2 linked regions of the Homo sapiens genome follow. The protein of the gene in region 1 purifies or fractionates together with the protein of each later gene. This does not show direct contact. Each region holds a gene or a part of one and is shown in the gene's direction. Other genes may lie near its edges.

The links. Proteins that work in one complex are often made in the same cells at the same time.
Region 2: the proteins of KIF5C (region 1) and ANKRD27 purify together in Homo sapiens (co-immunoprecipitation; one study listed by IntAct). This does not show direct contact.

The regions. Positions count from the first base shown.
Region 1 is NC_000002.12:149,004,227-149,007,726, forward strand, and holds part of KIF5C (kinesin heavy chain), read left to right. Parts: intron 1-1,166; coding exon 1,167-1,238; intron 1,239-3,500. UniProt on the Homo sapiens protein: Microtubule-associated force-producing protein that may play a role in organelle transport. Has ATPase activity. Involved in synaptic transmission. Mediates dendritic trafficking of mRNAs.
Region 2 is NC_000019.10:32,602,181-32,605,680, reverse strand, and holds part of ANKRD27 (ankyrin repeat domain-containing protein 27), read left to right. Parts: intron 1-1,256; coding exon 1,257-1,418; intron 1,419-3,500. UniProt on the Homo sapiens protein: May be a guanine exchange factor (GEF) for Rab21, Rab32 and Rab38 and regulate endosome dynamics.

The DNA.
Region 1 (3,500 bases):
AACCTTTATTGCAAGAAACTTAGTGTTTCCGTAGCTTTATAGTCTGTTTCTTCCTTTTAGATGTGAGCGTGTGTGAGTTGCATCCCTTGAAATTCTGTGTTAAAGTAGGTCAATTTAGACAAAGTTTGCATGCAGAATTTAGCTCTCTCCTCTTCCTCTATAGGAAAATATTTTGCAAGGAACTGATCATATTTCCTATGGTAAATACATGGAGACTTGAGCAGACAGAAATGTTTGATCTTCTGATCTTGTTAACAAAGATCACCAGATTTGGCTCAGGCTCTTGTCTCAGTAATCTAATTCCTAAGGTTTCATTTGTAGAAAATAATCCAAAATGAAGGGAAAAAATGCCCCCAAGATGACAGTGAAAGTTTTAACAACAACAATAAAAGGAAGCAATACAATCCTAATGAAAAAATGGCTTTTATGTTATGAAATATGCATCAATAAATTCATACTAGTCATCTTTATTGGGCACTTAATATGTGCCAGAAAATGTTCTAAGAACATTATAAGGTTCATCTCATTTGATCTTGACAGCAATGATAAGGCAACCACTGTTTTTATTCTCATGTTACCAATAAGAAAACTGAGGCACAGAAAGGTTAGATAACTTGCCCAGGGCCACCCAGGAGGAAAGTCCATGAAATGCCTCATCCGTAAGCTCAGTGACTTAAAACAAGCAAGTGTGTGGACTTGCGTCTGAAGCAGGTGTGGAGACAGGAAAAATGTGAGTCAGTTACGGTGAGATATTGTGGCTAACTTTTCATTTCAGCTTGTTGGTATTACATTGTAACATTTACATAATAAAAAAAAGAAAAAAGGAATTCACCCTGATACAACATAGCCCAGTAGGAATTTTTGTGAGGAAACCTTTGAATTTTTGTGGGTGAGGAAATGTGTGGTTCCACTGTGAGCAGATGGGCAGGCTTTGTTCTGGTTTACAATTTGTGGTCTGGGTTCTCAGGCTCTGCACCTCAAGGTGCTCCAGTAATGACACTAGGTCCAGGGGTGGGCATGGTCAGGGTGGGGGTGTCACAGGGAAGGGGGTGCACCAGCGGCGTCCATGGCAGGCTTGGGAAGTGTCGGGGGAATGATCTGGTGCCAAATGTGTCATAAATTCAGTGAATTGCTGCACTTAAGTGGCCTTTAAAAATCTCTTCCAGTCTAGAGAATTGCAGACACTGCACAACCTTCGGAAACTCTTTGTCCAGGATCTGACCACCCGAGTTAAAAAAGTGAGTTCTCTTTGTCTGAATGGGACTGAGAAGAAAATCAAAGATGGCAGGGAAGAATCATTTTCAGTTGAAATATCACTTGCTTAAGTCGGGGCTGGTTATGCTTAAAAATTAATTACTGCACACCAGAGAATGTTATTAAAAGAATGTGCTGGAGGCAAAAAATACTTGGTAACATTTTCCCATCTGATTTTTCCTTCTTGGTAAAAGGAAGTCAGAATACTTTCTCTGGCCTTCATTTCAAATGAACGCATATTTTTCTGGCCCCCACTGTGTGAGGGCAACTGCTCTTGACACAGAAACATTTAGAGCAGTCATTTCAGAAAGCATTGCCCAGAAGCCTGGAGAAGTCGGACAGAGAGAGCCTCTTATTTGTTTGTTAAAAGGCCATTAGGGGCTAGGTCAGAGTTTATAAAGCACGTCAACATCCAGTATTTTATTTGCTTTTCCCAGCAACCATGTAAGTGGTGCTTAGTGTTCCTGTTTCTGCAGATGTGGAGATAGGCTCAGATGTTAAATAACTTACCCAATATTGCACTGGTGGGAAGAGCCAGAGATAGGTCTGGAACCCAGGCCTGCGGGGTCTCTGGATCTGAGCTTCTTCCATCCTCGTGCTACAGCAGCAGTCTGGAGACACTCCATAATGGTGACTCCCCCAAACAGCTTGCAGAGGTTTAAGGAAGGAGTCTGTTTAAGAAAAGTGGGTGCATATGTGTGTAAATGTGTGTGCATATTTGAGTGTGTGTACGTGTGTGTGTGAATGTGTGTCAGTGTGAAGGAGCCAAGGGAAAGAGGTCAAATGTCTTACAAAGATAGAGTCGGGTCTGAGAGGGAGAGGGTTAATAGTGTAGATGGATGTATTAGATAGGCTTGCTAAGGAGGAGGGACACAAATTCCTAGAAGGGAGGAGTGGAGAAGTCAAGTTGGAAGGATCGGCAGGGAAATACATGCGGGTGGAAAGAAGTCACATTTGATGACTTGGGTCTTCTTGGTTTATGTGAAGGCTCAGTCCTTGGTGGGGAAGTAGGGAAGAGAATGGGAAACCCAAGGAGACTAGACATGGTTCAGGCTGCCAAGGTAGGGGATGTGCTATGGAAGAGTAGAAGGATTGCTGAGCAGTGGTGTTGGTGTTGAGTTAGAAGCATGGGCTTGGCGTGGCCCCTGACAGCATGGTTTAAGTGAGTTTCGAATCCTGGAAATGAAAATAAAGAAGGCAGAAAATGATGGGCAATTTCAAGGCCTGCATGGCAATGGCTAGGCGATTAGGTAGTAAGCACAGACCAAAACACAAATGACCATGGGGGCCTGGCCCTGGCAGGAGAGTGAAGCCAGAGCAAAGGTGATGGACAGGGAGGCTAGAGAGGGGAGGGCACCTGGCCAGAGGTTATGACATGGACTGAAAAGGTTCAGTCCGAGGAAGGAGGTGGAAGCCATGACCATACATGGGAGGCTGTGGTCCTAGGGAGGGTTAGGAGCTTGAGATCAGACTTCCAGATTTCATGATAGAAAACTCCCTAGGAAAGCCCTGCTTTTAGACCAGTGTTTTTCTGCCGGTGGTTCTCTGGCCATCAGCCTCAGCATCACCTAGGAAACTGTTTAGATATGCAAATTCTCATACCCCACCCCAGGTCCACTGAATCAGAGACTAGGGATGGGGCGTGGCAATCTAAGTCTCAACAAACCCTCCCCTGGAGAGCCCAGTGCTAAGGCTCAAATTTGGGGAGCTCAGTTTTAGACTGAAGAGCTGCAGGTTTGAGATGCTCATGTAGCCATTACCTTTGAGAAAAAGGATGATGATCTCTTCTATAATCAGACAGAGCAAACCTGCTTTTCCACCTTGGAACACTGGGATGTGTTAGGACCTGTACTTTCCAATTTATCTGTGCCACTCGGCTTGCCAGGAGTGCAGTGTTTTGCCAATTTCAAGATCTGATAAATTTCAAGAATTTACCCAGCACCCGGATGCTATGATTAATTTGAGCCTGGTTCATTAATTAATTTTATAGATTTGGAAGCTGAAGGGACAAGCAGAGGCCATTAAGACTTCCCAGTGGGACCATAGACACTTGCTTACAAGTTTGGTGACTTGTTGTCCCACCATGATGGCTGAAATCAAATTTAGGTCCTGGGTTTATGTTTTTGCAGTTGTTGTTTCTTAATGAGTTTTGGAATGCTTTCTTTTGAAAAGAAGTCTCTATTTACTACATGAAAGGCAGATGTATATTTTACTGAAGATAAATCATCTACAACTTTCAAAAGCAG
Region 2 (3,500 bases), on another chromosome or scaffold:
ACGGGGTTCTCCGATGGGAACAGATGGTGCCCCAGCATCTGGGATGCGGTCTCAAGGGCTCCGACGCTGCTTTTGCCAAGGGTTTGGGTCTCACCTCACCGACCGGGAATGTGTCACGCTGTTACCTGAGCATGGGCTGAGTGGCCGCCTCTGTCCCTGCTGCTCTTGAAAAAGGTTATGTGAATGCATTAGAATTTCTTAAAGAAGTAGGGAAAAACCAACCTGTCCATGACTGTGCTACTCAAGGGAAACTCATTATGGTGGACTTTTGACAAATGTGTATAGTTTCAGTGTTATTTATTAATTTTTTTTTGAGACAAGGTCTTGCTCTGTGGCCCAGGCTGGAATGCAATGGCACCCTCACAGCTCACTGCAGCCTCAGTCTCCCAGGCTCAGGTGCCTCAGCCTCCCAGCTAACTGGGACTACAGATACATACCACTGCACCTGGCTAGTTTTTGCTGTTTGTTTTTAGTAGAGATGGGGGTCTCACTATGTTGCCCAGGCTGGTCTCAAACTCCTGAGCTCCAACGATCCTCTTGCACTGGCCTCCTAAAGTGCTGGATTACGGGTGTAAGCCACGGGGCCTCGCCAAGTATTGTTTTCTCTTTTTCCGAGATGGAGTCTCGCTCTGTCACCTAGGAATGCAGTGGCTTACTCTCAGCTCACTGCAACCTCTGCCTCCGGGGTTCAAGCGATTCTCCTGCCTCAGCCTCCCGAATAGCTGGAACTACAGGCGCCCACCACCATGCCCAGCTAATTTTTTTGTTTTTTGGTGTTTTTTTTTAGTAGAGATGGGATTTCACTATGTTGGCCAGGCTGGTCTTGAACTCCTGACCTCAGGTGATCCACCTGCCTCTGCCTCCCAAAGTGCTGGGATTATAGGCATGGGCCACTGTGCCTGGCCCCAAGTATTGTTTTCTGTCTTAATGTTATTTAATGTAGAAACTTATTTACTCAAACTTTGATTTTTAATGGTTGCATAACTATGGATATACCATAGTGATTTTTTTGAACCTGTTTCTGCTCTGTACATTTAAGTGGCTTCTGTTTTCTCTGCTATTAGGATAAATGCTGCAGCGAACTCTTTGTCTATAAATCTTTTTTTCTCAGTATTACTTTTCCTCCCCAAATTTTAAGGAAACTTTCAGACATAAAAAAAACAATGTGTTTTATAGCGAATACCTGTATACCCACAGCCAGATTCCATGCTGACGTTTCGTAGCGTTCCTTTTGATCGTGTGGTTTCTCTTTCCAGCACGGGGCCTCCATTAACGCTTCTAACAATAAGGGCAACACAGCGCTGCACGAGGCTGTGATTGAAAAGCACGTCTTCGTGGTAGAGCTGCTTCTGCTCCACGGAGCGTCAGTTCAGGTGCTGAACAAGCGGCAGCGCACGGCTGTAGACTGTGCTGAACAGGTAGGTGGAGAGGGTCGAAGAGCCGAGGGAATCCTGAGCTCCTCACAGCTCCCTCTGGATCCCTTTGTTTAAGCTGGATCTAAAATAGCAACACCTGGCCCTTGGCATCGCCGGGCTGGGCGTAGTTGGTGTGCCAGAAGTCCACAGCGTGGGTAGATGGCTGGTCCTCAGTCTCCTGGTCAGAGGTGGTGCTCTGGGAACCAGGAATCATTCTTTTCACAGGTGGTTTTCAAAGGCCTGAGTGGAGGGGCCCCCCCCTCAGCTAGCAGTAGGGCTGTGGTCCGGTAGTTACATAGAGTCAGGCACTCAGGAAGGAGCAAGTCATGATGTTCTGGTGTCACCATCCTCACAGTGTGAACACAGCCGTTGTCTTAGCAGCACGATGGAGAAGGTTTGTTTTGTTGGTGGATTTAAAACTCCTTGAGGCCAGGCACAGTGGCTCATGCCTGTAATCCCAGCACTTTGGGAGGCCAAGGAAGGAGGATCACTTGAGCGCAGGAGCTCATGACCAGCCTGGGCAACATAGTGAGACCCCCTCTCTACAAAAAATCAAAAAATCAGCCGAGCATAGGGGTGCATGCCTGTAGTCCCAGCTACTCAGGAGGCTGAGGTGGGAGGATCGCTTGAGCCCAGGAGGTCAAGGCTGTAGTGAGCTGAGATTGTGCCACTGCACTCCAGCCTGGGTGACAGAGACTTTATCTCAAAAAAATGAAAGTAAAAGTCCTTGAGTCCTGTAGGAATCGTGATTATTGGCCTACTGCCTTCTCCAGTGCTGTGGATGCTTGCGTGGAGAGCGGCGGGGAAGGGTCCTTTTCCCCTGGCGAGCGGCAGCTCTTTCTGTTCCTGTTTTCCTGCTGAGTCTTTCTTTTGTTTTCTACCCAAGATAGACAGCGAGTAGGCTGTTAAGTGACACAACTGAGAAGCTAACATCACCATCAATCCACTCCATGGACAGGCTCCTTAGAGTAATTTTTTGTTTCTTAAGACAGAGTCTTGCTCTGTTGTGGCGTGATCTTGGCTCACTGCAACCTCTGCCTCCTGGGTTCAAGCGATTCTCGTGCCTCAGCCTCCTGAGTAGCTGGGATTACAGGCACGTGGCACCACACCTGGCTAAATTTTTGTATTTTTTGTAGAGACGGGTTTCACCATATTGCTCAGGCTGGTCTTGAACACCTGACCTAACTGATCCGCCTCCCTTGGCATCCCGAAGTGCTGGGATTACAGACGTGAGCCACTGTGCCTGGCCTCCTTATATTAATTTTCAGTGACAGAATTGAAATATTTTAAACTCTCAGTTTAGTACTTTCTTAAATGATTATGTTGAATTTTTTTTGGTTTTTAAAATTTTTAATTTTATTATTATTATTATTTTTTGAGACAGAGTCTCAATTTGTTGCCCAGGCTGGAGTATAATGGTGCAATCTTGGCTCACTGCAGCCTTAACCTTTGGGCGCAGATGATCCTCCAACCTCAGCCTCCCAAGTAGCTGGGACTATAGGCGTGTGCCACCATGACCAGCTAATTTTTTTTTAATAGAGACAGGGTTTTGCCATGTTGGCCAGGCTGGTCTCGACTGCCTGGGCTCAAGCAATCCACCCGCCTCGGCCTCTCAAAAGTGCTGAGATTACAGGCGTGAGCCATCGCGCCTGGCCTTTTATTATTTTTAAATAGAGACAGGGCCTTGCTATGTTGCCCAGGCTAGTCTTGAACACCTGGGCTCAAGCAATCCTCCCACCTCAGTCTCCCAAAGTGGTGGGATTGCACGCGTGAGCCACCGTGCCCAGTTAATTAATGTGTTTCAATGAGTACTTACTATATGGGGGCCCTCAACAGCCTCATGATAAGCATATGATAGTAGATCTTATTATGGTTGAGCTGGTTGCATGGAGTGGTTGAATCCCCAGCGTGGAGTCCACAGAGAGGGCAGAGCTTTTACCCAGTGGTAAAAGCAGAGCCGGGCTCCCCATGCAGGCCTGCTTTTACCACTGGGCTTTATGGCCTCCAAGCTCCATTTGTAATTATTTCTGAGCTTTTTCTGCCCAGTCACACTAATACTGACATTTAGATCAAAAACAAATAATA